3 separate regions of the Homo sapiens genome follow, and all the other regions are linked to region 1. The links come from fine-mapping of genetic effects on gene expression. A gene starts in region 1. Each other region holds a variant in brackets. All regions are shown on one strand. Distances are between the middles of the regions.

Region 1 (10,922 bases):
TGAGAGGGAAGTTAGCCTATTTCAGAAATGGAGAGAAAATCAACATGGCTATAGTTTAAGTTGCAAAAGAGGGGATAACTGACCAGCCATGGGGCTGCAGAGGTAAGCAGAGGCAAGCTCACAAAGGCTTTGTAATAAATGGAGGAATTTGGGCTTAAATATAAGAGCAATGGGAAGCTGTTGAAGAGGTTTTAAACAAGAGTGGTAAGAGACAAAATCCGTTTCAATCACCTCTTAAATAAATGGTTAGATCAGAAGAGCACTTCTGAATTATGGGAGTCCAAAAACAGTACCAAATTATGAAGAGGTAGTGTTCTACGATGTGAAATCTGAGGGCTTTTACATAAATATTTTTGCTTTCCAAACACTGTAGGAGACCCTTAACCTCATTAAATGGAAGCCCTTGACAACAGTCCTTTATTCCAGATGAGCACAACTCAGGAATTATCCATCTCAAGCTTATGATAGAAATAGTACCCCATGTCAGAAAAAAAGTACAAAGGCAGGATTTTACCTCATAGTATTCCACATGAAAGCACAAATTAGTCTCAATCACACATCGGCATCATAGGAAAATCTCAGAATTTCAGTATTGGAAAGAATGTTAAAGATCATTTGGTCCAACACCTTCATTTTACAGATGAAGGCAGTATACAGATTATTTCTTATACAAGACTGTGGATTCTGCCTTGGGCTCTCTCTCCCTCAGATCTTTCATGAAGGGGGGAAGTCAGCTTGGCATGTCATGAGTAGCCCTGTGGAGAAGCCCAGGTGACAAGGAACTGAAGCCTCCCACCGCCTGCCAGTGAGGAACTGAGGCCTGCCTGCTGGCCATGTGGGTGAACTTGACAGCAAATTCTCCAGGCCCAGTTGGTTATGATAGTGGTCCCAGCTGATAGTTTGGTAAGAACCTCATGAGAGACCCTGAGCCAGACCACCTTGTTAAGCCACTCTTAGATTCCTGACTTCAGGAACTGTGTGAAGTAAATGTTTGTTGTTTGAAAGTGCTAAACTTTGGAGTCATTTGTTAAGCAGTAAGAGGTAACTAATGAACAGTACACAAAATTAATAAATTCTTAACAAACTTACACTATGCTTCCCTTGATATCTAAATAGTAGTTATTTTCTAAACAATAAAATGTATCTTCCTTTAAAGATACTACCAATTGTGCTCTTCTTCTTTGAAAAGAGGTGATTAAATGGCTTATAGAATAGGTGATAGGATATTTAGTCATTTAGAGGTCACTGACTCTAATTTAACCTGAGTTCTTGGCAACCACACATAGATAATACTGAAATTTGTTTGCAAATAATTCCCTATGGCTACATATTCCCATTTTAATGTAGCTGTTTTTTTTAAATCTCCGTACATACAAAAATATGAACTTAAATTAAAATTACCCTTTCTTCTTAGTTCTAAGCAGCCTTAGTAGGATGCTGAGTAAGGGGGAAACAACAGCCTATCAATTGATGATGATGACCATATGTAAAATAATCACTTTTCTAATTTAATAAAACCTCCAAAGTTTTGTCCTTGGAAGAAAAACCTCCCAGTGAGGAGGAATAGCAATTGAAGTAAACCTGGCCCCTCTTCTAAGTTTTGTCTGCCTTTTATATTTTCAATCCCATTATTCATTCAGCATTCCATCAAGAAATACTCACTGAGCCCTTTCCACATACCAGACACGGATAACAATAACGAACTAGATAGACAAGGCTCCACCTTCATACACATTTTTATCTGGGTATAGGAAAAAGAAATTAAGCAATTACAATATAGTGGTAATCATTAGGGAAGAAAAGTAGAGGGTGCAGTGGAAGTACCTAGCAGGATACCTACCCTAGTACATTGGTGGGAAGAGATATAGGGGTGTGGAGTGGGACATGTGAGAGAGTCTAGAAAAAGCTTTTTTGTAACTGACATCTAAGCGTAATGTTAAGATGTCAGAAGGTATTTCAGGCAAAAAGAACTCCCCGTACAAAGGCCTGAAGGTAAGTGAGTTACATTTAGAAACTTAGAAGTTCAGCTTGGCTGCAGCATAGCATTGGGGTAGTGTAGCCCCAAAATGGATACAATTCCCTCTGCTGGGCTTCCCTGTAACAGAGTTGACATGGTGGAGAAATTAAAAAATAACAAAGCTTTAGGCTCTGACCTCTTGCACATTATGCTGCCTGAAAACATTTATGTTCCAGATGCAGAAGGCTAATCAGTCTGGCAAGAATTCTGAGGTTGGAAAAACCTGCTTTGAATCCCAGCTTGAGACCAGTAATACCCACAACAGGTTGTGTAGAGGTTAGGTGAAATAATAAATGTGAAGCATCTTACACACACTAGGTGCTCAAATAATTCTCTCCCTTCAGTTACCTTGCTTCTGAGCCCCCAGCTGGACTCTGAGCTGAGGACACCATGTCACCATCCACCACACATGACCCCATGACTTGGCAGAGGACGATGCTTTTCTTGGCCATCTCTATGTCCATCTCATTCAGTTCTAGTCTCTACCCTCTTCTTTAGAGGAACTGCAGCATTCATAAAACAAGAATTATAGCCACACGCACCTGAGACTTGTTCCATTACACTAATTGTACTTTATATTTGTATATGTACTTGATCTCAATTATTCCTTTTGAGAACATCATAAGGTTGAGTATTGTAATCACTATTTGGCAGATAAAAGCCCTAGGTTCAGAGAGGTACGTGATTTATCTTGACTGAAGCTTTGAATGTAGCTCCTCATTTTCTAAACGAGTTCTGTCAACCCTACAAAGGCTGCCTCCCAGCAAATACTGCAATGGGCATATGTTTTAAGGTATATTTGCACTTTTTTTAAACTTTTAAGTTCAGGGGTACATGTGCAGGTTTGGTACATAGGTAAACTTGTGTTATGGGGGTTTGTACAGATTATTTCATCACCCAGGTATTAAGCCTAGTACCCACATTAGTTATTTTTCCTGATCCTCTCCCTCCTCCCACCCTCCACCCTCCAATAGGCCCCAGTGTGTGTTGTTCCCCTCTATGTGTCCATGTGTTCTCATCATTTAGCTCCCACTTATAAGTGAGAACATGCAATATTTCGTTTTCTGTTCCTGTGTTAGTTTACTTGCAGTTTCTTTTAAAAGTTATTAAGACTCAGAGAAACATAAACTTTTACAACTATATACCTATTCATCAATATACAACTGTATAACTATATACTCTTTCACACATATTTTAAGTTCTCTGTGTAAAACTAAAGTTGGGGGGTGGTAGTGGTGGCAGGATGTTCTCAGAATACTAGGGCCTTCAAAGGACCATCCTCAATACTTTGATGATAGGTATCACTTTCCATTTGCATACTTGCCCAGCTATGCTCATAACAGTAAAAATAAAGCTTCCTACCTTCTTAAGAATAAAAAACTGTCTCCCCTGTGAAAATAACACAAGTGAAAGACTTAATTATTCAGGTGGACTTCAGCTGCTGATTTCAAATGGAATTATTCTCTTATGATCACAGGATGCCTTGTAAGTTACCTGTTTCAAGCCCAGTCTCTGCCTAGGGAACTGTCTCCTATGAAAAGGAGTCCGGGTGGACCATGGTGGCTCATGCCTGTAATACCAGCATCTTGGGAGGCCAAAAAGGGAGGATCGCTGGAGGCCAGGAGTTTGAGACCAGCCTTGACAACAGGACCAGATAATAGACCCCGTCTCTACAAAAAATAAAAAAAAAATTAGCTGGGCATGATGACTCACACATGTGGTCCTAGCTACTCGGGAGGTTGAGGTGGGAAGATCACTTGAGCCCAGGAGTTCCAGGCTGCAGTGAGCTATGGATGTGCCACTGCACTCCAGCCTGGGTGACAGAGCAAGACCTCAACTCAAAAAAAAAATAAATAAAAAAGAAAAGGAGTCCACCTCACTTCTGAACAGTTCAAGTTGAGTCCATAAATGAGCCTATTTCTGTCTTCCAAAGATATCCATATAAGACTTTTCCCAACCACCCCCCGCAACCTTGCTTCCTTTCAGTGTTTCTCCAAAGGTGGTGCCCAGATTACCTGGATCAAAATCACCAGGGTACTGATTAACAGGAGATTCCTGGGTCCCAACGCTGACCTGAATCATCACCAAGAAATGGTGCATTCGCTTTTCATATCACATTACCCAGCAGATTCATACTTCGTGAATTACACACTCTAGATCTCTGTCACACAAAAAAAATGGTCTTAGGCAAAATCTCTCATCTTCTACTTAAAACAACTGGTTTTAACCTAAGGGGCTGATATAAATGCTAAGTCAAGCAGTGATTTGTGTTTAACACTTGACAGTCCCTCTTCCAGGTACTCTATATAGTGGACTTTTATACAATATGATGTACAGTCCTTCAGCCAACCAATAATACACCTAACTACAATCCATTCTACATTTCCGGAACCATGCTGTTCATGAGGATATCACTTCAGATATTTTGTGGAAATTTTGAAATTATGGCATCTACAGAACTCCCTGATATACTAGCTATTGTAAGCCAAGCCAAAAAGCACATGAAGGTAGTTTGGTATAATTCTTTATCTATCTTGATAATTGAAATTGTTTCACTGTAAAACTTTACATAACTGAGCTTTGTTTTAAAGCAAAAAACTTGCAGATGTGAGACAGTACGAGAAAAAAGAATCAGCTGTTACCATCTTAAAACTTAGGATAGCCTAGGTGTGGTGGCTCACAGCTGTAATCCTAGCACTTTGGGAGTACGAGGCAGATTGCCTGAGCTCAGGAGTTCGAGACCAGCCTGGGCAACACCGTGAAACCTCGTCTCTACTAAAATACAAAAAAAAAAAAAATTAGCTGGGCGTGGCGGTGTGCACTTGTAGTCCCAGCTACGGGGGAGGCTGAGGCAGGAGAATTGCTTGAACCCGAGAGGTGGAGGTTGAGGTGAGCCAAGATCGCACCACTGCACTCTACTCCAGCCTGGGTGACAGAGTGAGAGACTCCGTCTCAAAAAAAAAAAAAAAAAAAAAAAAAAAAAAAAAAAAAAAAGAAAAGAAAAAAAACCCCAAAAAACTTAGGATAAAATCTTAAAACGTTTTGTTCGACTTAAATTTAAATTAGCAGTTTAGGATATAGTACACTGATAATGTAATTACATACATTCTGCTATAAAGGCATAGACATCTTTATTGGGAGATATGGGCAGAAAAATTATTTCCTCAGGGTGGGGCATTTGGCTAAACACTTGCCAATATCCTTTACTGTGTAATTTAGGTAACACAGGCAGAAAAGGCGTTTGAAAAGCAGAAATCAAGTGGCAAATATCAGATCTGAGGGACGCAATGAGGGTGGAGTTGAAATCCGTGGTCCTTGGATTTGAAACTTACCAGCCCGTGAACAAGGTTGGTATTGCTTTTGGCATAAGACGACAGCCTTTCTTTTCATTAGCTCAGGAGGAATACTGGCTTTCCAAGTGAGCTCCTCCAATCCAGTGATATTTGCACATCTCACCTGGGCCTTTCGGTTACAAATTCACCACCTTAAGGAGCCGTGTGAAAAAGCAAGAACAATCAATAAGAAGGAAAAAAAAAAACCCTTCAGCTATAAATCAGCCACGTGGAGCTGCTGCAGCAGCAGCGGTAGTCCCACTTCCTGGTTGGCTTCCTGAAAGCCTCTCGACAAGGGGCTCAGGGAAGTGGGTCTAAGGGAGAGGTGCAGACGAGAGCGACTCCAGGTCCAACGGAGGGGGCGGCGGGCCACGGGATCCCGGAGGGCACAGGCGTTAAGGACGGAGTTATTGTCCATAATTACAATAAAAGTTTGGGGATCTGAAAGCTTTAAGGAGCTGAGCTGCAGGGCAAAGGCTAAGAACCGGACTCGGGAAAAGTGCAAGTTAGTTACAAGGTAGCAGGGACTGTGAAGGGGGCTCGCGTGGAGAGCAGGGGACTGCGGATCTGGAAGGGGGCAGGTAGAGAGGAAGGCAGCCTGGCAGAGCGAGGCACACGGGTCAGTCGGAGCTCTGCGGTGGCCGCCAGAGGGGAGGGGGCCACGGGGAGGAGCGGAGGGAAGAGCCCGGGGAAAGGTGTAGCCGAGGGGAGTTCCGGATCTGGAGCTGGAAAGGGCAGGCAGCGGAGAGGGCGGCAGCCGTAGCGGTAGGGGTGGGGGAAAGAGGGGGAGGAGAGCCGGAGGAGGGGGAAGGAGGGAGGGGAGAGCGGTGGCGGCGGCTGCGCCGGGCTGTGAGTCTCTCGCCGCCGGAGGAAGATGAGGCTGAAGATTGGGTTCATCTTACGCAGTTTGCTGGTGGTGGGAAGCTTCCTGGGGCTAGTGGTCCTCTGGTCTTCCCTGACCCCGCGGCCGGACGACCCAAGCCCGCTGAGCAGGATGAGGGTGAGTGACCCGCCCGGCCCCCTCCGGCGGCAGCGACCGGCAACTTGTTTTGTTTGCCCGCGTGTGGAGGGAGCAGGGGCGGCGGGGTCGCGGCACGGCGTGGGCACCGCAGCTCCGCAGGTGGTGCTGGCGCAGCGCGGGCCGAGGGGGTGCCGAGCCCCGCGCACTCCGACCTCCCTGGCCGCCGCCGGCCCGCCCCCTCGCCGCCCCTTCCTCCGCTCTTCCCCGCCCCGGGCTCCGTCGCCGACACCCGCGCTGCCGCGGCAGCGGCTCGGGCGGCCGCTCTCCGCGCCGGGACTGCGGGCGGAGCGGGCGGAGAGCCGGGTCCGGGGGGCTGCGGCCGCCCGGCGTCCCGCTCTGGGGGGCCGGGACCGCAGCGCTCACGGCCCGGGGACGCGGGGTTGGTCCAGGCTGCGGCCTGTGGCGCGTGCAGGCCTGAAGGAGGCGAGATGCCGATGCCGCCACCGCTGGTCCGGTGGACCAGGCCCCTTGGTCCAGCCTCCCCTCCCGCAGCCGCCCGTCTGGGGGTGTTCGCAGCCCCGGGCTCCCCCGGCCCGCCCGCCGGGGAGTGGGAGGGCGATGGCGCCCCGCCTCCGGCTCTTACGGAGAGCGCGCCTCCCCCTCAACTCCGGCGGCGGGGAGCCGGGGTGCGATGCGCGGCCGAGGCCTCGCCCGGACCGCCGGTCCCCCTCGCGTCCCTGGGCGAGGGAGGGGCGGTTGGCCGGAGATGGCGGAGGGGCGTCCCCGCCCCGCCTGCCCGCCGCCCCCAGCCCTCAGCGCCTGGGGAAGCCCCTGCTGTGGCAGTGCTCGGGCGCTATCCGGGGGAAGAGGAGCAGTTCCTCTTCCTTGGCTGCGGCAGGGCTGCTTGGGCCGGAAAACTAACTTGTGTCGGCGCCCGGCCGCCCCGCGCCGGCTGCCGGCTAGCTCAGGCCGACGCCGAGGGGAGCGGCGGCGCGGAGCTCGCGGCGGCTCCGCTGGGACGCATTTGTCTGCCGCCCAGGGCGCGAGTGTTAGCGCTGACATTCCTTGGATTTGGAGGGTTTAGTCAGGCGCCTCGGAACATTAGTTACCCGGAGCCGCGCCGCGCGGGGAAGGGACCGCGGGCACTGCGGCTTCCCTGACCCGGCAGCGGGCGGCGCGCACCGGCCTCGCCCCCGACCCTGACCTGCTTCCCCCCGGATGAACCGTTGCACCACCTGCTTCCTCCTCCCCGCTGGGACAGCCAACTGGGCCGGCTGCCAGTGGGGGTAGGAGAGGGTATGAGGGGCTCACGACCGCCGAGGCGGCGGGGCTGCAGGAGGAGTCGAGTCGCTCTCTCTGTTGTAAAGTGCTTTTTGCAAGTGTGATGAGCATCGCTTCTATGTCATGTTTATTTAACTTTCCTTCTGGAAAGTTAGCATCAAGAAGTTGGGCAAAAAGGCTTGTGGCGTCCTTTCAAGAGTAAGAATCCTAGGAGGAGATCCCATTATCAGCTCTTCGCCTATATCATGAGATTAGATGTAATCTGGAAGTTTTAGTATTTGAAGTCTCTACAGCAGTGGAATCCCTTTGTAATATCTGGGATAGATTCCCATCTAAGTCATCTAAATTGATGGTAATAAAAAGTATCAGTTTTCCTTTTCAGTACATTTGCGGTTTTAAGCTTCTCAGCTCATGGAGTGATGGTGATCTTTTTATAATTTTGCTCTCAATATGACTTATTGACAAAGGATAACTGAATATTGCAATTGAGGATATTTGTTTTAAGTCATCAAATGGCTTTTTACATGTAGCTAGAAATGTTTAACCCCCTATTTTCTGGTAGAGAAACTGACGAAAAACTGACAAAACTAGCTAGGTTCAGAATGTCCCGCCCTTCTGATGATCTTTTAAAGAGGTGGCGGAACATCAGCATCACTTGCCAACTCGTGGAATATTTTATTAGTGCAAACAAAGGATGGGCCATAATGCCCATTTCAGTACTATATGGTGATGATAAAGAAGGTGATGATATCTTGATTTTTTGTTTGTTTCAGTGTACTTGATAAAGTTTCTCAGTGGATCCAGTGTAATTTCTGTCATTTGTCAAAAACAAAAGGTAGATTTTAAAGACTTAACATAATTAACATTAAGAGGAATGCTTAGGTATCAGAAGAGCAAGAAAGACCCTTTTATTGGCTTCCCAGGTAAATAGTAATACAAGCAATTTAAAGTGTAGCTTATAAATAATAAGAGCATAAATAAGGGATTATTGCCTTCCTTTAATAAAGACTAACCTAGGAGCTTTTAAGGTACAGTGCTAGAAGGACAAATCCTGTAGGGAGGATTCTGACTCCTGAGTTTCTCCTCCCCCTTGTGGTTCTTTTACTTCGATGACTATTGCATATATTCCACCCATGGTGAGATCTCTGCTTCTCTTTAATGCTGATCTACACATGGACTTTTTTGGATCCCTTTAAATAGCCTGAACGATCCAGTTTACCAGGTATGGGTTCTGCCTCTACTCCAGCAAGCTTGTACCTGTGGCTCCATTCACCCTGTGCCACTTTTTGTCTTGAACTATGAATATGTCATACACTAAATTCTGTTACAGCCTTGACAACTTGGGATGGTCCTTTCTCATCTGCACTATTTCCTTGTTTTAGGTCTGTCCACCTGTGGAGTCAAGACAAAAGAAACATGTTTCTTATTTCCTTCCCATCTCTGGGCCTCTTGCCCTTTCTCTGAAGTGAATGATGTGAAAAATGACCTTACATTTCCGATCATATTCTGTTGTGTGATTTTAAATATTGATTTATTTGAACATTTTTGAGTGCCAATTATATACCAGGCATGGTACTAGTTGTTAAGGAAATACTCCTTGTCCTTAATCTCATGGATCTTGTAAAAACCACACAGCAATCAAACCTCGATAAATATATAAATAAAAATTGTGCTACTGCTTTCATAGTGAAAACCATAGGGGGCAAGAAAATGGAGGAATTTGGTCATAAAAGCCTTACTTGAAGAAATGACTATTAGCAGTAGCAAATCCACACAGGTCTGAAGCAACTCGATTCTTACCTCCTGTGGGAAAGAATTTATTGGAGGGGCATAAGGCAGAGTGAGAGACCGAGGCAAATTTTTGAGCAGGAGTGAGAGTATTAAAAAGCTTTAGAGCAGGAACGGAAGGAAGTACACTTTGAAGAAGGCCATGTGGGCTACTTGAGAAATCCAAGTACCTCGTCTGACCCTGGACTTGGGGTTTTATACATTGGCATGATTCCAGGGTTTGCGTTTCTTCTCCCGTGATTCTTCCCTTGGGGTGGGCTGTCTGCATGCGCAGTGGCCTGCCAGCAGCGGGGAGGGGCTGCCTGCAGTGTGTTTACTGAAGTTTTACTCATGCTCACTTGAGGCATTTTTCCCTTACAATTTGAGCCTTCCTAGAGGAAGGGCATATACTAGTTAAAAGCTGCCATTTTGCCTATTAGTGCACATGCTGGAGCCCACTTGCCCAACTCCTGAGATCTTAGTGGGAACCTGCTGATAACCAGCTTTAGGTGTTTTCTATCTAATGGGAGACTGCCTTTCCATGGTGTTGGCGCGACCAATTATTATTTCAGAGAGACAGTTTAACAACGGCCTGACCATCACCTGATGGCCGCCTGACATTCCTGGTGGTGGGGGGCCTTTCCTGCCCTGCTCATGTCTGCCTAGCTGCCTACTCTGACTTTTGAGGCGAAATCTGAACATTTCAAGAAAAGTAGTTAATCTGGAAGTGGGTGGCAGCATTCTTGAGAAGGAGCATTTGGGCAAAGGTCCTGAGGCAGGAGGTAGCATGAGTGAAATAGTGAGAAACTAGGAGATAAATATTGTTGGAACGTGGAGAATGACAAGTAGAATGATGCCACACAGGAAAGCATGGGTCTCGTAGTCCATGCTAAGGAGGAGATCTTAAGTGCGGTGAGAAGCCGTTGAAAGATTTTAAGTAGGGAAGAGTGGATTTGTGTTTTGAAAAGATCACTCTGGCTGCCTACAGAAAGTATGTATTTGTCTATAGAACAGGTAGCAGGAGTCCTGGTGGGGGTCATCATTATTCAGGTGGGACATAATCCTTGCTTAGATTGGCAGGGCGGTGGTAGAGATAGAAAAAAATAAATTGATTCAAGAGCTCCTAAAGATGCAAAGGCATCAGGATTTGGCTATTGGATATGGTAGTGAAGGTGTCAGGAGGCCTAGGATGATAGATTATTTGTTTCATTATGGAAAGTTCTCAAAGCAAAATGTATACCTTCTTGTATTGTATTTTATGATTATGGGAAGCTTTTTTTTTTTTAGTCTTTGCCCTCTGGATATTTTAAGGTCAGCATTTATTAAGATTATCTGCTTGGACTTGCAAAGCACAGAAAGTTCCTTTAATTAAATAAATTATGTCCCAGACTAACACCATTTATCCCAGGTTTTAGCCCTGAGTGACTGTCTACAGTTGACCCATAAGCCTCTGAAAATAAAGGTTTTTAAAGGAAATGTTGACAGATCCATTAAAACAGCAGTCCCCCACCTTTTTAGCACCAGGGACTGGTTTTGTCAAAGACAATTATTCCACAGACTGGGG
Region 2 (10,922 bases), 140 kb after region 1:
GGACTGGAGTTTACTATGGAAACGTATTCCTCTAAGCCACAAGGAAAAGGCCAAAAGAAAACATAAAACTGAACCTTATCGGTAAAGACTATTACTTTATTTTCTTATGTTGAATGTTTATCTAAGTTCTTTTTTTTTTCTTCCCCATGAACTCGTATAAATGTGTGGGTCCATACATACGCTTCCATTTGATCTTTGCTGCCATCAACACAATACAGAACCATTTGCACTGTGCCGCTTATAGATGTCATAAATGGCAACACATATGAAATTATACCCCAAGGGGGTGGTGATGAAGATGGGTATGCCCGAGGAGCATGGGATTGGAGTATGCTCTGGAAACGGGTGCCTCTGACCCCTCAAGAGAAGAGACTGAGAAAGACAAAAACTGAACCGTATCGGTAATCACTAAATCACTTACATATTTTTCTTTTCTCCAGTTGCTGCTAACCTATTAACCTCTTGCCAAGCTAAAGATTCGTTATTAAAACTGTAGATGTTGTCTCAGATTCTGAAAGAACATCTTTCCTTACACTGTTTCAGAGCTTTCAATCTGCTCCATTTGCTCCATTGTAATTGCTTTTACCCTAAATGTGATGTCCACTACTGAGACGTACACACTTTCATTGGGGAAAGAAAAATAATGTAACATGGCATTTGTTCCACGTACAAGTGAAAAAAAGATAAAATCTTAGTTATCCTGTCCTACTGGATTAGACATCAAATTTTATTCTTTTGATGACAGTGTCATTCTATAAATTTAAAATACATAAATTACTTTAATCCAACCAAGACTTTTATTTCCACGTTCATGCCGTGGGTATAATGTTAACAATGAAGGGCACTAGCAAGAGATTTCTGGGTTTTTCTCCCCTTTTGCTGTTATGTTAACTCTCAAATACTAATTTTGTACTAGTTAAATCTGATGAATCACAATACATGACTTTAAAAAATGTTACATAGAATCCTTTATTGCTTCATTCTCAGAAAAGTGATTGATTAAAAGAAAACTCTATTCAAAAATCAGCTTTTGTCCCTTCTTGTGGTTCTTTCAGTAGAACAACTTATGCTACTCTCTTCTTTTGATCTTGTAATTAGAACATTTTACTGTCTCTGTAAAAAGTGACCCCAAATGAAATGTTTGCTCAAGTGTTAGTATAGCCTTCTCCTGAATGTGTCTAATCTTATTTTTCTGATCCTATGGTTCTGCTTTTGGTCTCTCTCTCCCTGTTACACTGCTGGTGATGTTAGAACTCTGTTTTGGGAAGGTGCTTCCAATGTTATGGAAACGCTGTGGGATTTGGGCATGTCATGATATCAAGATACTGAATGGCAAACATAAAGAAGTTATAGCACTTAATTAATCATAGTAGCTTAATTGGACATTTACCAAATTTTTTTTGGTAAATTTCTTATTCAGAATAGTCCAGGAATCAACTGCTTACGTGCTTAACTTAACAAATAACTGTGGGAGAAAAAAAATAAAGGGTGCTGAGCAAATTTATATTTCTGTTAATTCCATAGGCCAGTAAAGAAAATTTTTAAAGTGACCTAGAAAAATTAAAGGGAGGTTATCTGTTGATTAACTCACTGGTGACCATGTTAAGATGCATTTTCAAGTATATACTGAGATGAATGGGAACATATTTGAAGAAAAATAAACCCAGCTGCCGGGCAAGGTGGCTCACACCTGTAATCCCAGCACTTTGGGAGGCCGAGGCAGGCGGATCACCAGAGGTCAGGAGTTCGAGATCAACCTTGCTAACATGGTGAAACCCCATTTCTACTAAATATACAAAATTAGCTGGGCGTGGTGGTGTGTGCCTGTAATCCCAGCTACTTGGGAGGCTGAGGCAGGAGAATCGCTTGAACCTGGGAGGTGGAGGTTACAGTGAGTCAGGATCACGCCATTGCACTCCAGCCTGGGCAACAGAGTAAGACTTGGTCTCAAAAACAAAAAAAAAAAGACACAGCTATAACGGAATAATCTTAAATGACAGTTAAATAAAGGTGACATGAAAATATCACCTAAAATGTAATAGTGTTGTTACTGTGTTAGGCAGCATATTTTAAGAAGAAAAAGCATGAGAGAACAACTTTTTTCTGATGCTATTTTCTTCTAGTATTGAAAATATTTCTTGATTCATTATCCACTCAACAAACGTTTATTGAATGCTTACTGTATGCCAAGCACTGTTTTCTGGGGATACATTTTTAAAGATATGTTTCCTCATTGAATTTAAAATACAGTGAATCAGACAGAAATTAAACAGATAACTGCATAAATAACCCTAAAATTAGCCTGGTGTGGTGGCACGTGCCTGTAGTCCCAGCAACTCAGGAGACTGAGGCAGAGGGATTGCTTGAGCCCAGGAGTTCAAGGCTTCAGTGAACAATGATTGTGCCACTGTACTGCAGCCTGGGCAACAGAGTGAGACCCTGTCTCACAAAACAAACAAAACTCTGGAACAGCAGCTGTGATAAGTAGTATGAAGAAAAATCACAGAGTACATGAGTTTATGGAAAGATGAACCTAATCCAGCTTGGGAGATCAGGAAAGGCCCTTCTGACAAAGTGTCATTTAGGCTGAGACCTGAAGGATGAGGGACCAATTCTGTGGAAAAGGAGAAGGAACATTTCAGGATCGTGAATAACATGAATGAAGGCCTTAAGACAGAAAGGAGGCTGGCACGTTCCCGGTGGGAGCAGAGCCGTGAAGGACTCAACGGGAAGAGAGTCCATGGTGAGCCCAGAGAGCCGGGAGAGGCTGGTATCATGCAGGCGCATGTGGAGGAGTCTGCTCTGGCCCCTGTGTGATTAGCCTTGAGCAGGGGGCAGAAGACAATAAAGGACACAAGCTCGGGAGATATTGGAAAGTCCAAGCAGTGTTGGCCTGGTCTAGGCTGGTGGCAGTGAAGTTGGAAATAAGTCAGCAGATTCAAGATGTATTTTCAAGGCTGGGTGCAGTGGCTCATGCCTATAATCCTAGCACTTAGGGAGGCCTAGGCAGGTGGAACTTTTGAGCCCAGGAGTTCTAGACCAGTCTGAGCAACATGGCGAAACCCCATCTCTACAAAATACATAAAAAGGTAGCTGGATGTGTTGGTGTGCGCTTGTAGTCCCAGCTACTCAGGAGGCTGAGGTGGGAGGACTGCTTGAGCCCAGAAGGTCAAGACTGCAGTGAGCCGCAATCATGCCACTGTACTCCAGGCTGGGCCATAGAGTGAGACTATGTCTCAAAAAAAAAAGATTTTTTTTTCAAGGTAGAATCAATGGAACCTTGAAATAGGTTCCATTGAACCTATTTGAGTAGATTGAATATTATGTATGATGATGAAGTTACCCTAATAATACTGAGTACCCTAAAATTTAAGAATCATGATGGATTAGTAATTAATTGTTCAGGGGAGGGGAGCAGGGAGCAAGATAAATTCTGCTGTAATTTCTCCCAATGGTGGGAGTGACTTGTCCCTAAGAAGCTACCAAATCTTTTTTCTCTTGGACCTAAAAAGTGTCCAATTTAAGATCCATTCAAGAAGCCCCACAGATACACAGGTCACCCTTTTGCATTCCTACCTCCTGGCACAGTAAATATCTATATCTAATTCTCCTGTGTCATTTCTGTGCTACATTTGCAAACTCTGAATGAACTGTGGTTGTTCTACAATGATTTACACTGTTATTTGGCGAGCCCCTGAGCTATAAAATTAAAAAATGACAGACTACTTCCATGGTGTATGGTTTTGTTCACCCAAGAATGACTCATAAATCAATGCAGGAGCAGTTAGCAGACCACGGCTGTATGGCTCAGTGTTTTTAAGAGTGAAAGAGAAAATTCTATTTTAACTAAAACTAAGGCTTAATTTTTAAATCCACAGAGGTACCAAGGCGCCCTCTAATGGTGAACTCAAACAATGCTCTATTTTGTAATGAGCTACAGTTTCAGTTAGAAATTGTGGTAAATTCGTTAGGGAATTATGAACAGATTTTTTTCTTTTTTTGTAAAGGCTTTATAATTTCTTAATGTTTGGCCATCAGTTTTGTCTCTTCTATGCATTTTCAGGCTGTATTCTACAAGGCTTCTTGCCTATTGGTGAAGGGTTATTGGGGGTTTGTCTGTAATGGTTATTGCAGTGTTTCTTTTTCTTAGGTCCCCAGCCATGGCTGGGGGATTATTTGCCATTGAACGAGAGTTCTTCTTTGAATTGGGTCTCTATGATCCAGGTCTCCAGATTTGGGGTGGTGAAAACTTTGAGATCTCATACAAGGTAACATTTTATTTCAACAGATGGAATTCTCCAAGTCGTTACTAACTTCTGTGGCTTTCAGATAAAGCTAGTTTTTTGTGGGGGAAAAAAGCCCACAATTATATCATGCATTTCTCCAAATTGTATAGAATGATTTAATGAAAATGGATGCCTTTGAGGAAAAAATAAGGCAAAATGCAAGCTCCAAACTTACCATATATTTACAGGGCTCAGCTCAAAATTGTGGCTAGCAAGCTTTAGAAATGAAAATATCTACCCCCACACCCCAACTTTCTATATATTGGAGCTTTTTATTATAGAAGCCCTTGGAAGAATCTGCATGCGTTAGGGCCACAATTGACCACCCACTGACACAGTCACCCTTTACCACTGTAGGACATGATTCAAGACAGAAGCAGAGCCCCACAATGACTGTATCCTCAGGCTGACTTTGGCGCTGTCTTCCTGCAGCATCCACCCTGTTGTTGAAGCAGTCTGGGAGCAATACTATCTTCCATGCTCCAGCCCCCACCTCAACCCCTATTCCTACCCCCATTTTCCAAAAGAAAGAGAGAGAGAACTATATCAGAGTGTGAGTTAAACAGGTATTCATTACCTCTTGTCTTAAATGTCCTGTGCGTAGCACTGTGAGGGATAGAAGAGGAGTAAACCAGTTGTTGCTCTCAAGGAACTTGATAAGAAGATATTAGAATTATACTTAAATTCATAATACAAGAAGGCAGAATGGCATTCAGTTGGTGTGCTTAAAAAACCGTCGGCCAGGCGCTCATGCCTATAAACCCATCACTTTGGGAGGCCAACATGGGCGGATCATGAGGTCAAGAGATCGAGACCATCCTAGCCAACATGGTGAAACCCCATCTCTACTAAAATACAAAAAATTAGCCGGGTGTGGTGGTACACACCTGTAGTCCCAGATACTCGGGAGGCTGAGGCAGGGGAATTGCTTGAATCTGGGAGGCGGAGATTGTAGTGAGCCGAGATCGCACCACTGCACTCCAGCCTGGGGGACAGAGC[G/A]AGACTCCGTCTCAAAAAAAAAAAAAGAAAGAGCGAGCGTTATGCTAGATGCAGAATTTGCGGCAGAAGTAGGAAGATGGGTATGATGTTAGTAAGCACAGATAAGGGATGGGAGGGGGACTTCTAAGCAAGTAGCATGGGGAAAAGTACAAAGAAGAGAACACAAGGAACATTCAGAGAACAGCAAGGAGCAAACTTTGGCAGAATCAAGCAACATGAATAAGGAAGACATCTAAGAAGATAAAATGGGAAGGTGTATTAGGGCCATATTGAAGAGAGCCTTTAAAGCTGAGTTAAGAGATTTTTATTTAATTTGATAAGCAGTGGAGAACGATCAAAGATATTAAGCAAGGGAATAACATGACCCAAAGCTGCCCTTCACCTATAATAATCTCTTGCTATAAATAAGGATAGTTGAGTAGAGAGAAGCCGAAGGTGAAGAAGCCAGTTAGGAGTTTATTATAATAATCACCCAAGTAGGAAATATATTAGCAATGGAAATGATTAATGAGTTAGGAATAAAGAATCCACATGACTTTGCAAGGTTATATTGGGAGAAAGTTGCTAGGGGCTATGAGTACACAGTAAGAGGCCCCTTAGTAGCAGTTTATTATTAATACTGTATTCCCTGTTGCCTTCTTGGTTGTTACATGAGCTTTTAAAAGCAAATTATTTTAGGATTTGTTTAGTTTAAGAATTCTGTGTGGACACTGTATATAATTTAGATTTTAGATTTACACTTACAAGATAAATTTTCAGTTATGGTTTATGTTTGTATTTGAAACAACTTTCACAACGTGTTTTTCCTTCATAGATATGGCAGTGTGGTGGCAAATTATTATTTGTTCCTTGTTCTCGTGTTGGACATATCTACCGTCTTGAGGGCTGGCAAGGAAATCCTCCGCCCATTTATGTTGGGTCTTCTCCAACTCTGAAGGTGAGTTTTTTGGATAAAAGGGGAGGACAGGGAACTAACATTTATGTACCACATGCTATAGTAGTTACTTAACAATTGTCAGCTTATTGAGTGGGCTCTTCAGCAGTCATGTTGATTCTCACCTTTAACTTAGCTAGACTTATTCACGAAATATCTTATTGTTCTTTAAGATTATTCAGCTGAAGCAGGAGGATTCCTTGAGCCCAGGAGTTCAAGGCTGCAGTGAGCTATGATTGCACCACTGCACTCCCCGCTGGATGACAGAACGAGACCCCATCTCTTAAAAAAAAAAAAGATTGCACCCTATTTTTTTAATTGACAAGTAAATATTGTATGTATCTTGTACAATATGATGTTTTGATATATGTATACATTGTGGGGATGGCTAAATCTGGCTATTTGGACATGTATTACGTCACCTACTTGTTTTTGTGCTGAGAACACTTAAAATTTGTTCTCAGCAATTTTCATATATGTAATATATTATAAATTGTAGTCACCATGTTGTATAATAGATCTCTTAAAACTATTGTTCCTAACAGAAGTTTTGTGTCCTTTGACCAAAATCAGCCCACTCCCCCCAATCCTCACCTTCTGGTAACCACCATTTTACTATCTGTTTACTTGTTTACACTCCACATGTAAGTAATATCATGCAGTGTTTGTCTTTCTGTGCCTGGCTTATTTCATTTAACATAATATTCTCCATGTTGTTGCAAGTGACAGGATTTTTTTATTATTTAAGGGTGCATAGTATTAATACCATCATGTATATATACCATATTTTCTTTACCCATTCATCTGTTGATGGACACTTAGCTTGATTCCATATCTTGACTATCGTGAATACTGCTGCAATGAACAGGAGTGTAGATACCTCTTCGATATACAGATTTTATGTCCTTTGGATATATACCTAGTAATGAGATTGCTAGATCAGATGATAGTTCTATTTTTAATATTCTGAGGAACCTCTGTACTGTTTTCCCATAATGGCTGCACCATTTTGCATTCCCACCAACAGGTGGGAAGGGTATCTTGTGGTTTAATTTGCATTTCTCTGATAATTAATGATGTTGAGCATTTCTTCATATAACTGTTGGCTAGTTGTATGTCTTCTTTTGAGAAATATCTATTCAGGTCCTTTGCCCAATTTAATCAGGTTGTTTCCTTACTATTGATTTGTTTGAGTTCCTTCTATGTTACGGATATTAGCCCTTACCAGATGTATGGTTTGCAGATGTAGCCTCCCATTCCATAGATTGTCTACTTTGTTAATTGTTTCCTTTGCTTACAGAAGCTTCTTAGTTTGATATAATTCCATTAGTCTATTTTTATTTTTGTTGCCTGTTCTTTTGGGGTTGTTACATCCAAAACCAATATCATGGAATTTTTTCTTTTAGAAGTGTTACAGTTTTAGGACTTCACGTAAGTTTTTAATCCATTTTGAGTTGATTTTTATATATGGTGTGAGATGAAGGTCTAGTTTCATTCTTTTGCATATGGATATCTAGTTTTCCATTTATTGAAGAGACTGTGTTTTCCCTCATGTGTTCTCAGCATCTACCTTGAAAATCAATTGACCATAAATGCGTGGATTATTTCTGGCCTCTCTGTTCTGTTCTTTTGGTCTATGTGTCTGTTTTTATGTGAGTACCATACTGTTTTGATTACTATAGCTTAGTAGTAGATTTTGAAATCAGGTAGTGTGATGCCTCCAGCTTCGTTCTTTTTGCTCAAGATTGCTTTAGCTATTCAGGGTTTTTTGTGGATCCATATGAATTTTAGGATGGATTTTTTTATTTCTGGGAAAAATGTCCTTGGAATTTAGATAGAGATTATATTGAATCTGTAGTTTGCTTTTATAATATGGATATTTTAATAATATTAGTTCTTTGAATCCATGATCACAGGGTATCTTTCCATTTATTTTGTGTATTCTTCAATTTATTTCATCAGTGTTTTATAGTTTTCAGCATGTAGATTTTTTCACCTCCTAAATATTTTATTGTTTTGCTTAGCTATTGTAAATCGGATTGTTTTCTTAGTTTGTTTTACAGATAGACCACCGTTAGCATATAGAAACACTACTGATTTTTCTATGTTGATTTTCCTGCAACTTTATTAGATTTGTTTATTAGTTCTAACAGCTTTTTAATAGAGTCTCTTTAGGGTTTTGAATATATAAGATTATGTCATCTGCAGAGACAGTTTACTTCTTTTCTGATTTGGATGTCTTTTCTTTCTCTTGTCTAGTTGCTCTGGCTAAAACTTCCAGTAGTATGTTGAATAGAAGTGGGGAGAGTGGGCATCCTTGTCTTGTTCTTAATTGTAGAGGAAGAGCTTTCAACTTTTCATCATTGAGTATAATGTTTGCTGTGGACTTGTCATGTATGGCCTTTATTGTGTTGAGGTACAATCCTCATGTAATTTGTTGAAGCTTTTTACATTGAATTTTGTCAAATGCCTTTTTCACATCTATTGAGATGATTATATGGTTTTTGTCCTTCATTCTGTTAATGTGGAGTATCACATTTACTGATTTGTGTATGTTGAATCATCCTTGCATCCCAGGGATAAAGCCCACTTGGTCATTGTAAATGTTATTTCAATTATTTCTCTGTGTTTGATTGAAGGTAACTGAGCTTCTGTAAAACAATTATTTAGAATTATTTATCCAGGTCTACTACTGGGAGATTATTGTGATCTTCTAGTGGTATTATGTCCTCTTCATTTTTCAGTTTCTTATTGACTTACATTAATGCCTGTGCATTTTGTGGACCAGTCACCTCTTGCGGACTTTACAGGCTGGTTTCAGCTTCCTCTATGGGGGAAGGAAGGTGTGAGGGTACTTGCTTGGTGGGATATAGCAGTTCTGGGACTACTGAGGATACCAGGTATATATTCCCTGTGCAGATCAGCCCACCAAGGTCAGTGTTGGCAAAGATTCTAGTGCTCCTCAGTGGCTAATGCTGTAGATATCTATAGTGGCAGTGAGGCATGTTGGGGTCTTTGGGTATGGCTGCCAAGGTCATCCTGATTTTTCTCTCATTGCAGAAGTTGAATGCCCCTTGGCACTGGTTCTGACTCATAGGCTCACTTGCAGCGGCAGTGGCCCTTGTAGAGTGGCTGGGGAGCTGAGGACTGAAGCACAAGCATGAGTGGAGAGACTATGGCTACAGGATCTTGGACAGTTTAAAAACCCCAGGACTTAGGGCACAGATATTTCGCTACTGTATTGATAACAGAATGCGAGGTACCAGATGTTTGTGAGACAGCTGAAGTAGCCAAGAATGGGAGCACAGATGTGCTCAGAGTTAATCCAGCTCTAGGGACAGAGTGGTGCCTAGGTCTCTATGGCAGCTGAGCTGGTGCTTGGGACATAGGTACCTCTGCTGCCATGTTGGTAGCAGTATGTGAGGCCCAGATGCTTGTGAAGTAGCTTTTAGAGCCAAGGAAAGGAGCAGAAGCATGCGTAGAGTTAGAGCAGCTCCTGAGTTGGGGTGGGTTCTAGCTCTCTGTTGCAGCTGATCCAGGGCCTGGAGATGGGGCATGCACAATAAAGGCGTGGCTCTGAGGCCTGGAGCATGAACGAACTATAGCAATGGTTCTAGTGTCGGGGCAGGCCCAGTGCAGCCACAGAGCCTGGGGCTGCAATGTGGACACTAGCAGAACAACTGTGGCTTCAGGATCAGGGCTCACTGGGCCATGGGAGAATTGGCAGAGCTTTGCCCAAAGTAATTCAAGAGTAGCTGCTGCTTGGATGGTGGTGAATGTTCAGATGCATCTCCCTCTCTGGGGTTCCCCAGCAGAAGGGCTGTCGTTTACCTCAGTGGCAAGTGATGCCAGTGTCCTCTAGGGAGCAGGCCTCTGGAAACTATGGTAGTTCCTGCTGCATGGCCGATACCAATAGCATCTGCCTTTCTTCTTTGTTCCTAGCTATCTCCTTGTGCCTCAGGTATGTAGACCTCACAGGTGATCCTGTCCTATGTAGATATTCTTCGTTTCTTTTCCTCCATTGTGTTGCTGCAGATTCTTCAATGGGCCCTGGAGCTCTCTCTGGGCTATTTGGGTTTGTGAATAGGTGTCTGTATTTGTTTTTTAGTTGTGGGGGAATAAAGGCTGGTGTCTCCTACTTTGCCATCTTGGTGACCTCACCTCCCATTATATCCCATTCTGATTAAGATTCCTATATTGAATGTTCTCCATGAATACATTTCAAATAAACTCAAAAAAGTCTGACACTGTGTAGGGAAATAGTTGAAGGGAAAAATACTAGCTTCTGTTATTCACACATGAGTAAAATATGGTTTGGTTTTTTTTTTAATTTAGATAATCATGTTAGGAGTTTGCATAATAAGCAAAATCGAATTTTTGAACAGTGCTTACAAAAGATTAATATCTCTTGTCCCTCAAAGATTGAAAAGTTAATGTGAATATCCTTTGTCCTGTTGTATTCTGCCTCCATATTCTCTATCTCTGTCACATAAAATAGAGGAAAATTGGCCAGGCACAGTGGCTCACACCTGTAATCCCAGCACTCGGGGAGGCCGAGGTGGGAGGATCACGAGGTCAGGAGTTCGAGACCAGCCTGACCAACATAGTGAAACCCAGTCTGTACTAAAAATACAAAAATTAGCTGGGTGTGGTGGTGGGCACCTGCAATCCCAGCTACTCAAGAGGCTGAGGCAGGAGAATCG
Region 3 (10,922 bases), 52 kb after region 1:
TTCCCTACCAGAATCTAAGCTCCTGGAAAGCAAATGCTATGACTTTTATCTCTTGTATTCCCACAGCCATGTTGGCTAGAAATATGGTGGATACACAAAGAAAGTTAGTTGAAAGAACAAATCCAACTATCCAAGAGGTTCTGAATACCCACTGGCCCCACCACCAACCTCTGCTCTTCTTCTTCTTTTTTTTTTTTTTTTGATATGGAGTCTTGTTCTGTCGCCCAGGCTGGAGAGCAGTGGTGTGATCTCGGCTCACTGCAATATCCGTCTCCTGGATTCAAGCGATTCTCCTGCCTCTACCTTCCAAGTAGCAGTGATTACAGGCGTGTGCCACCATGCCTGGCTACTTTTTGTATTTTTAGTAGAGACGGGGGTTCACCATGTTGCCCAGGCTGGTCTTGAACTCCTGACCTCAGGTGATCCGCTGCCTCGGCCTTTCGAAGTGCTGGGATTGCAGGTGTCAGCCACCATACCCGGCCTGCTGTTCTCCTTTTAATGCACCCAAGTCCTGGGGAACCCGACTGGGGATCAGAGCTGTGAGCTGGGGGAGGGCCCGTTGTTTTGACCCTAAGACCTAGCCTGACTTGAGAAGTTTCAGGATGTGGAATTTCATCAGGCTCAAGGAATCCTTTCAAGGAGCATTCTGACAATAGAACCATATAAAATCCACTCTTCTTTTTGTCAATTATTTTGAAACTGTTCCAGTAATTAAGATTGAGCTAGAAAATATGAACTACATTTTTACAAATACTCAGACCTTCAAAACAGGCTTTAAAAGGCCGGGTGCAGTGGTTCACGCCCGTAATCCCAGCACTTTGGGAGGCCAAGGCGGCAGATTGCTTGAGCCCAGGAGTTCGAGACCAGCCTGGGCAACATGGTGAAACCCCTTCTCTCTCTAAAAATAAAAAAATAAAAATAAAGAAATCAGCCGGGCATGGCAGCATGGGCCTGTAGTCCCAGCTACTTGGGAGGCTGAGGTGGGAGGATGGCTTGAGCCTGAAAAGCAGATGTTGCAGTGAGCTGCGATCACACACTCCAGCCTGGGTGACAGAGCAAGACTCTGTCTAAAAAAAAGCCCACAAGCTGGCTTTAAAGTGAACTAATAATGATGTCTATGTTATGATTCTATATGATATTTGAATATGTTCACCCTTTTCTCTTTTAATATTGTTTCAACTACTGATTTACTTTAGCAAACACTTTCTTCATTAAAAGTGCAAAGGTAAACTTAAACCATCCAAATAATCAGCCAAATCAGTCGAATCTACATGAAATATACAACAATCTAAATGCTTAAAATAGATAAGTACAATAGTGGAGGGCGTAATGTGTTACTGGGCTTTTGACATCAAGGACGTCTGTGTTCGAATCCTGACTTTGTCAGTTGTTAGTACCAGTTGTATTGACTTAGATAAATCATTTCACCTTTCCAAGTCTCAGTGTTTTCTTTTATAAAAACTATGGTTGTCAGGAGGATTTTGTGAGATAATTATATATGAAAGAACCTACTAGGATGTATTCTTTAGTAAACATTCAGTATTTGGCTCTCTATTTGGCAACTGAGTGGTGGTTGTGTTCCCCAGGTGTGAGGGTTCCTGGGCTGGGCTGGGGCTACTGTCTTGTAGTTTCAGTAATTTGGTTTCTTGTGTACTATTCATATATATATATATATATATATTTTTTTTTTTTTTTTTTTGGAGACGGAGTCTCACTCTTGTCCCCCAGGCTGGAGTGCAATGGCGCAATCTCGGCTCACTGCAACCTCTGCCTCCCAGCTTCAAGTGATTCTCCTGTCTCAGCCTCCCGAGTAGCTGGGACTACAGGTACCTGCCACCACGCCTGGCTAATTTTTGTATTTTTAGTAGAGACGAGGTTTCACCATGTTGGCCAGGCTGATCTTGAACTCCTGACCTCGGGTGATCCGCCTGCCTCGGCCTCCCAAAGTGCTGGGATTACAGGTGTGAGCCACCATGCCTGGCCCTTATTATATATTTTTATATACTTTAGAAAATTTGATCTGCGGAAAATCTGGTTCTTGTTTTTTGGCCACATTATCAGATCAGTCACTCATCTACTGTAAGTACATTAAAAAGAATACATGGTCACTTTGCCCAGTTAACCAGAGAATGGTGCCATTAAGTTAAAAAATGCATATACATGTATAGGCATGATCCTCATATAGATTAGTTTTGTTAGCTGCACAGTCACAGATCAAATCCTGAGTTATTACCCTTCTTACAGAAGGGTGTGTCGCTTGTTCATGGTGGGGACAAGGTTGTCAGTGAGGATAGCTTGATAGTAATAAACTATTACTACCATTGGAAGAACATTTCAAAATACAATATTATGCATCCTACTTAGGTTATTTTCACTTCATATGGTAATAGTCCATTAATTTACCCTAATAATATTTAGTAGATTTTGACATCTACTAGAACATAAGGTTGAAGTGAAAAGCATGTTTTAGTTTGTGCATTTTAAAACAATTTTCTACGAAAGAAAACCAAAATTACCTTCCATAGCTTTCTTATTTAAATTGGACTTAATATTTCTATTGTTTTTAAGATTCAACTCTTGGAATCTTCTACATTTCTTTGCCTAAGTAATAGGGGATGGTTTATGTTTTTTGCCATTCATAATTTTTCTTAAACCTTCATACCCACATTTAGCCATATGCGCTTTAAGACACACAGTGAAGATGAAATTTAATACACATCAAACTTCTGTGCAGACTTGGTGAGAAACAGATATTTTGCAGCCTGCTTTCACTCTGTGAGTCATTAAGGAGTGGGTTGATAAACTTGCATTGCAACCTTGCTTATAGAAGATTGTGCCTATTGTAAGATACTCCCTATAAAGCCAAAAGATAAAAAAATGCTAAGGGTACTGACAATTGTTTATAAAATACAGTCATAAAGACATCCCGCTCCAGAGAGTTCTCTGATTAAACTTCACAATAACTGTAATTTCTCTGCCTGAATCACTTTGTTAAATTTTGTCTTGGCTTCTGGAGACAGGGTAGGGAGACAGATTAAATTTCAATACCTTATGCTATTCATTGGGCTTGGGAGAGTTTCTTCAGCATAAATGATAATAAAGATAGATTAGTGATTCTGGTTTATCCTCTAATCTTAGCATAGACATTTTCTGTAGATTAGAAGTCATTTCATTTATGAACCAAATAAGGCTTCTGATATAAAAAGAAAAATGAATCTTACTCAGTTCCCTAAGGCTTAGAAAAGATTGCTGGAATTTAGGAGTTGGGTAAATGGTTTTACTTTAGCTACTAATCCAATTGAAAAAACGTGAGACGATTTTCTGAAAAGCTAAAAAGCTCTTATAGTAAATTTGAGAGGATTTTTAAATTATGGAGAACAAGATAGTATTGCCCTTACCTAAAATTCTCCCTCAATATTTTGTTTCCTTTGCTTTGGAAACAGCATCCAAGCAGGGCCACTGAGAAGGGTGTGTGGGGGTGGGTGTTTTATTGACAGTTGTTTGAAGGAAATTATGCACAGGTACCTAAAAAGAGCAACTCAGGCAAGTTTCCCAGCCACTTAGATTTCCTGTTTCTTTAAGTTAAGCATTGCTATTCACATTGTGTTGACTGTAGAAGGATTGATAGTGTCCAGTACAAATAATAATAGTAAAATAGAATTTCTGCTTAGAGTTTGTGGTAAATATCAAAATATCTTAGTGATAAGCACATGTATTCTTTTAAATTTTGTCAGTTGCCCAGTGCTTCCATTCATTCATCACTTGTTTATTTTATTCAACCAGCATTTATTGACCCCCTGCTGGTTCTGGGTTTCCTCTCATACTGTGCTAGATGCCTGGTATGCAAAGATAAATGAGTCATGGTCTCTCCCCTCAAGCAGTCACCAACTACTAAATTCTTGGTCATTTTAGTTGTTTTCTTTTTTCTTAAAAAAATTTTTTTTTTCAACAGGTTTTTGGGTACAAGTGGTGTTTGTTTACATGAATAAGTTCTTTAGTGGTGATTTCCAAGATTTTGGTGCACCTATCATCTGAGCAATGTCACTGTAGCCAATGTGTAGTCTTTTATCCCTCTCCTCCCTCCCAGTCTTTCCCGAGTCCCCAAAGTCCATTATATCATTCTTATGCTTTTGTGTCCTCTTAGCTTAGCTCTCACTTATGAGTGAGAGCATATGATGTTTGGCTTTCCATTCCTGAGTTACTTCACTTACTTACCCTCCAGTTGCATCCAGGTTGCTGCAAATGCCATTATTTCATTCCTTTTTATGTCTGAGTAGTGTTCCATGGTGTGTGTGTGTGTGTGTATACATACACATACATACCACGGTTTCTTTATCCACTCGTTGATTGATGGGCATTTGGGCTGGTTCCATGTTTTTGCAATTGCGAATTGTGCTGCTATAAATATGTGTGCAGGTATCTTTTTCTATAATGACTTCTTTTCCTCTGGGTACATACCCAGGTGTGGGATTGCTGGATCAAATGGTAGTTCTACTTTTAGTTCTTTAAGGAATCTCCACACTGTTTTCCACAGTGGTTGTACTAGTTTACATTCCCACCAACAGAGTAAAAGTGTTCCCTTTTCACCACATCCATGCCAATATCTATTATTGTTTGATTTTTTTGATTACGGTAATTCTTGCAGGAATAAGGTGGTATCACATTGTGGTTTTGATTTGCATTTCCCTCATAATTAGTGATATCGAGCATTTTTTCATTTTTTTTGGCCATTTGTGTATCTTCTTTTGAGAATTGTCTGTTCGTTTCCTTAGCCTACTTTTTAATGGGATTGTTTGTTTTTTTCTTGCTGATTTGTGTGAGTTCCTTGTAGATTCTGGATATTAGTCCTTTGTTGGATGTATAGATTGTGAAGATTTTCTCCCACTCTGTGGGTTGTCTGTTTACTCTGCTAATTATTTCTTTTGCTGTGCAGAAGCTTTTTAGTTCAATTAAGTCCTGTGTATTTATCTTTGTTTTTGTTGCATTTGCTTTTGGGTCCTTAGTCATGAAGTCTTTGCCTAACAAAGCTATTGTCTAGAAAGTTTTCCCAGGGTTATCTTCTAGAATTTTTGTGGTTTTGGATCTTAGATTTAAGTCTTTGATCTATCTTGAGTTGATTTTTGTATAAGGTGAGAGATGAGGAACCAGCTTCATTCTTTTACATGTGATTTGCCATTTAGCACCATTTGTTGAATACAGTGTCCTTTCCCCACTTTATGTTTTTGTTTGCTTTGTTGAAGATCAGTTGACTGTAAGTATTTGGCTTTATTTCTGGGTTTTCTATTCTGTTCTGTTGTTCTATATGCCTATTTTTATACCAGTATCATTGCTGTTTTGGTGACTGTGATCTCATGGTATAGTTTGAAGTTGGGAAATGTAATACCTCCAGATTTGTTCTTTTGCTTAGTCTTGCATTGGCTATGCGAGCTCTTTTTTGGTTTTATTTCTTTTTTTAAAAAAATTATTATTATACTTTAAGTTTTAGGGTACATGTGCACAATGTGCAGGTTAGTTACATACGTATACATGTGACATGCTGGTGCGCTGCACCCATTAACTCGTCATCTAGCATTAGGTATATCTTCCAGTGCTATCCCTCCCCCCTCCCCCCACCCCACAACAGTCCCCAGAGTGTGATGTTCCCCTTCCTGTGTCCACGTGTTCTCATTGTTCAGTTCCCACCTATGAGTGAGAATATGCGGTGTTTGGTTTCTTGTTCTTGCGATGGTTTACTGAGAATGATAATTTCCAACTTCATCCATGTCCCTACAAAGGACGTGAACTCATCATTTTTTATGGCTGCATAGTACTCCATGGTGTATATGTGCTACATTTTCTTAATCCAGTCTATCATTGTTGGACATTTGGGTTGGTTCCAAGTCTTTGCTATTGTGGATAGTGCCGCA[A/G]TAAACATACGTGTGCATGTGTCTTTATAGCAGCATGATTTATAGTCCTTTGGGTATATACCCAGTAATGGGATGGCTGGGTCAAATGGTATTTCTAGTTCTAGATCCCTGAGGAATCGCCACACTGACTTCCACAATGGTTGAACTAGTTTACAGTCCCACCAACAGTGTAAAAGTGTTCCTATTTCTCCACATCCTCTCCAGCACCTGTTGTTTCCTGACTTTTTAATGATCGCCATTCTAACTGGTGTGAGATGATATCTCATTGTGGTTTTGATTTGCATTTCTCTGATGGCCAGTGATGGTGAGCATTTTTTCATTTGTTTCTTGGCTGCATAAATGTCTTCTATTATTTCAGGAGATCTACTAGATGCTGGAGTTACAGCAGAAGAAAGACAGGAAGAGTTTCTTCCCTTATGGAGTTATTCTCTAGCCTAGGAATAAAAGTCAACATGAATAAAATGGAGAAGCAATCAATGCTGAGCTGAATTTTTCAAATAGAGTAGAGCTATTAATCATATTAGGTCAGAGATGTAATTCTTTGGTGAGAGACTAATAAATGAAATAAAATTATAGGTCTTTTTGAGACTAATTGAAATTATGGAACAACCGATAGAATAAAACTACATTCTAAAATTGTAGTTTCCAGATTCAGACTTAGAACATTCCTTAATTAACTTAGCATTTGATTTATAGAGAACTTTAATATTTCAATAGTATTATCTATCAAATAGTTAATGAACTATTTTAACTTTCTTTGAGAAAGTTAAAAGGCAGATATCTCCAGTTTTAACATTCGGCTCTGACTCAAATTTTGGTTAAGTTTTGCTGTCACATCTAGACTTTATTACATAAACAAAGATTTAAATTAATTACAGTTACTTCAATGGGATATATAATTCAGATTTATTCAACTTTCCCCATTCTTTAATTACTACTGGTCAGAGATTGTTCTTGTGAGAGATACACTATTTTAGCATGACTCAGAAACCTTAGTAACAAAGTGAACATTTTAAAAGCATACAAAATACAAGCCCGAATTCGATTCAGAAGGCATAAAATTAAGCTATTGGATGCTGTAGTTTCTCAGTGCTGGTGTGACTCTCTGCCCCTGCCTCATGATAGAACTAGGAACCATAACAGTTCACTGAGTCATGCTAGGCCATGGTATCAGCGCGTGCTTGGCAGACCCTCAGTAAACCTTTGTGTGAGTGGGGGCATTTGTTGCACAGTGATGATCTCAACATTACTTTAATAATCTATACCACATATTTATGCTTGGTATTGGTTTGTTTTAAAATGCAATTTTTAATTTAATTTTATTATTATTATTTTTTGAGATGGAGTCTCGCTCTGACCCCCAGGCTGGAGTGCAATGACGTGATGTCGGCTCACTGCAACCTCTACCTCTTGGGTTCTAGGATTCTCCTGCCTCAGTCTCCTGAGTAGCTAGGATTACAGGTGTCCACCACCATGTCCGACTAATTGTTGTATTTTTAGTAGAGGCAGGGTTTTGCCATGTTGGCCAGGCTGGTCTTGAACTCCAAAATCAGCTATTCTTTAAAAATTATGCATTTGAAACAATGAAGATTTAGCCATTCTAAACACTTCTTTAGAAACTTTATGCCTGCCCTTCCTTAATCGATTACATTTAGATGGAACTTTTGTATAAAGTGTTCTCCTACACATGATCTCATTTGATCTTCTTGACAGTTCTGTGACTGATATTGGACACTTATTATTATCCCCATTTTATCAATGAGTTAATTGCTATTTACCTGCGATTATATAGCTAATTAATGGAAGGCATTGGCTGTACAATGGGATTTGTGACTCCCACTTTACAGCTGAGCTCAATTCTTTCTACCATTGACCTGCAACGATGTTTTAAATAAAATGACTACTAAGGTTAGATGTTTTAAATAAAATGACTATTAAGGTTAGATGTTTTAAATAAAATGACTACTAAGGTTAGACTGCTAAGGTTAGAGGTTAGACTGCTAGTTTCTGCCAATGGATCATTTTTGCCAATAATAGGATAATTTTTTTTCACAATAAGAATCCTAAAAAAAAATTTCATCCTAGCCTCAGCACTTCTCTACATTAATTCTAGGAAACACTTGTACTTAGATGGAGCTTCCTAAGGACCAGCAATCTTTTTAACAAAAGATGAGCCCTTCAAAAGCTGCCTGATAAGTGAGTGCAAGAATTATAACCATTGATACACACTGTAGTCATCAAAAAGTCAGATCACACAGTCTATTCTGCATAGGACTCCATTCATTGCCTTTTAAATGCAATAAACTTCCCCTCCCTTTTTCACACCATATCCTGCCTTTTTCTAACCTATATTAATGATTCAATACATATGGTGAATAAATTAAGTGATAGAGTTTTTTTAATTAGCAAGATTTTTATATAGCAAGATATAACCTGAGTTATACCTGTATTTCACTTTGATCTAAGAGAAGCAAATCATACTAGCTCTTATATAAAAACTCTGTAATGGTAGCATAACTATTCAGTAATGTTACTAAATGAAAAAGAACTGCACAATGCATTTTGTTATGCATATTTTCTTTAGGAATTCCTTCACTCTTGGAATAAACTTAACTCTTTTCCATAAATGAGACCCCCACCCCCCGCAGTCCAAAATTTGTCAAGCTGAATGATCACTAAAATCACCTAAAGAACATTTTTAATGTTATTTTTCTCAAGCTTTTTATAACTAAAATTTTCTTCCCATATACAAAAAGCTGAAAGACTAGTACAATGAACATTCATACAAGTACCTCCTAAATTCAATAGCTGTTAATATTTTAACAAATTTGGTTTCTCTCTCTGCCTTTCTCTCCCTCTGTGTGTATATACATAGACCTATCTGTATAAGTCTTGGCTTGATTTGAGTTTAGGTAAAACATTATTGATAAAAATACTTCTTCATTGATGTGTGTACTTCATATTGCATTACATCAGGTGGCAAATGACGTCAGGTTGTTTCATCGCTGGTAATTGTATTTAATCATTTGTTCATGGTGGTAAGTAGCAGATCTCTTTTTTTTTGTAAATAACAAACGTGTCTGGATGGTAGTTTGGTACTATGTGAATATCCTGTTGCTAACATTTCACCTAAAGGAAACCATCCTTTTGTCCCTACCAGAATCTATTGTTCCATCAGACTCTGTTGTTACATCTACATTGATTAGCTGGCCTTCTTCTGTAAAGGTGAGCATTTCTTTATCAACTGTGGGTCGACTACAGTTTCTTCTAAAAAGTTAGGGTAATTTGTAATCCTTCCCCTTTACCACGTTTCGAGTAGATCTCACCATATCGAATTTTTCCCATTATTTTTTCAGGGCTACTTTTCTTTCTGACACAACTAAATTTGCTCACCTTCCAATTTCCTGCCTCAGACCCCAAATCAACCATTTCTTCAAGGAACCTCAGTTCTTTTTAGTGAAGGATGGTATGTATAAATCAAGCTCTAAGTGTTAGGCATACCTATTGTACTTGTATCTTTGCTTCTTGACCTTTTCAGTGGACAGTGCAAGGAAATATGTGTATTTCTCTTAATCATGAGTTCATGTTAGTATTTGTAATTTAAATTTAACATTAATTTTAAAAATTATATTTGTATATCACACTTAAAACTTGCAATATATTTATTTGATTCATATATACATATATAGTTTTGAATTACAATAAAATTCTGAACGAAGTTTAAGATTTCTTTGCAATTCTTTCTGTCCCTGGGGAGTTTTTAAAAATGCAAATATTGGCCGGGCGCGGTGGCTCACGCCTGTAATCCCAGCACTTTGGGAGGCCGAGGCGGGCGGATCACGAGGTCAGGAGATCCAGACCATCCTGGCTAACACGGTGAAACCCCGTCTCTACTAAAAATTAAAAAAAAAATTAGCCAGGCGTGGTGGCGCGCGCCTGTAGTCCCAGCTACTCGGGAGGCTGAGGCAGGAGAATGGTGTGAACCCGGGAGGCGGAGCTTGCAGTGAGCCGAAATTGTGCCACTGCACTCTAGCCTGGACGACAGAGCGAGACTCTGTCTCAAAAAATAATAATAATAATAATAATAATAATAATAATTATAATTATATCTGTGCCCACTTCCCCAAGATCTTCTGAATTAGAATCCTGGAGATAGAATTTTGTCAGATTGTAGGTTTGTATTTTTAAAATAACCAATCCATGATCTCCTGCCCTAGTCAGCCTCAGGACTGCTGGAATATGTGAAATCTGTTTTACTTTGGGTCATATCTCTCAATCCTCCCTCCCCTCTTTTTTCCTTCTTAGACATTTTTATAATTTTGTTATAATGTAATTACAGAATTACTGGGCACAGGGAGAAATGTTTAAGGAAATGGGAAAAGGGTTGACTGGGAAGTAAAAAGAAAAATCAAGAATTTGCAGGAAGATGGTATAGGGAGCTTAGAAGCTACTGGCATGAACAGTAACTTTTCATAGGCTATCATTATCCTCAATATCTTCCTTACAGTTCTTCAGAAGATTTTAAACAGTAATCCTGTTTTTTAAAACAGGATTTAAAACATTATTTAATAATGGCCTAGCATTTATTGCATATTTAGCATTGCCAGGCACTCAAAGTATTTTATGTAGTGCCTCATTTAATCCTTGCAGGAACCTTATTGTGCTCATATATTAATATTCCAATTTTGTAAATGAGGAAACTGACTTAAATATATGTACTCTGCTTAATGAGCTACTTTCTAAGGAAAACACAAGTTTTATCTTTGCCACAGGTTGGGTTACCCAGGAAGCGCACTCTGAGATTGAGATTTGGATGCCTTATGTTGTTAGAGATACCTGACAGATCTAACAGAATTGATCTCTGGGGATCAATACCTTTGGAAGGGAGGAGATGCAACCACAACCACTCAGTGAAGCTGAGCTATGAAGTGGTTCTCTACCAAGTCCTGAACCAACCCCACAGAGAGCTCTGGAGCTAGGGTAGTTGTTCAAAGTCCTTCCAATTTGGAGCAAGAG

Alleles and levels. Alleles are on the strand shown, and positions count from the first base shown. SD is a standard deviation of normalised expression in the study named. Not every link is listed here.
With allele A in place of G in region 3, the expression in tibial artery of the gene that starts at base 6,199 in region 1 is higher (moderate effect, 0.67 SD a copy in GTEx).

What was found.
Region 2: its variant is fine-mapped to the expression of GALNT7 in blood mononuclear cells (TOPMed, PIP 0.95).
Region 3: its variant is fine-mapped to the expression of GALNT7 in tibial artery (GTEx, PIP 0.99).

Annotation. Positions count from the first base shown.
Region 1 is chr4:173,162,613-173,173,534 of GRCh38, forward strand. GALNT7 (polypeptide N-acetylgalactosaminyltransferase 7) reads left to right here and starts at 6,199. Exons shown (of 12, transcript NM_017423.3): 1 at 6,199-6,349. The coding sequence starts at 6,224. It overlaps GALNT7-DT (GALNT7 divergent transcript), which reads right to left and starts at 7,040. Exons shown (of 7, transcript NR_134242.1): 1 at 6,252-7,040; 2 at 5,350-5,501; 3 at 4,033-4,178; 4 at 3,512-3,687; 5 at 2,366-2,520; 6 at 1,681-1,741. RefSeq lists enhancers at 3,310-3,389, 5,468-5,567 and silencers at 5,878-5,927, 5,998-6,117, 6,348-7,577.
Region 2 is chr4:173,297,897-173,308,818 of GRCh38, forward strand. It overlaps GALNT7 (polypeptide N-acetylgalactosaminyltransferase 7), which reads left to right. Exons shown (of 12, transcript NM_017423.3): 6 at 219-401; 7 at 4,151-4,268; 8 at 6,100-6,222. Among named protein-coding and RNA genes, the nearest start is that of HMGB2, 31 kb to the right of the region's middle. RefSeq lists enhancers at 8,784-9,566, 9,567-10,348. The variant G/A (reference allele first, on the strand shown) is at 5,286.
Region 3 is chr4:173,215,048-173,225,969 of GRCh38, forward strand. All of the region lies in intron 1 of GALNT7 (polypeptide N-acetylgalactosaminyltransferase 7), which reads left to right. Among named protein-coding and RNA genes, the nearest start is that of MIR548T, 48 kb to the right of the region's middle. The variant A/G (reference allele first, on the strand shown) is at 5,907.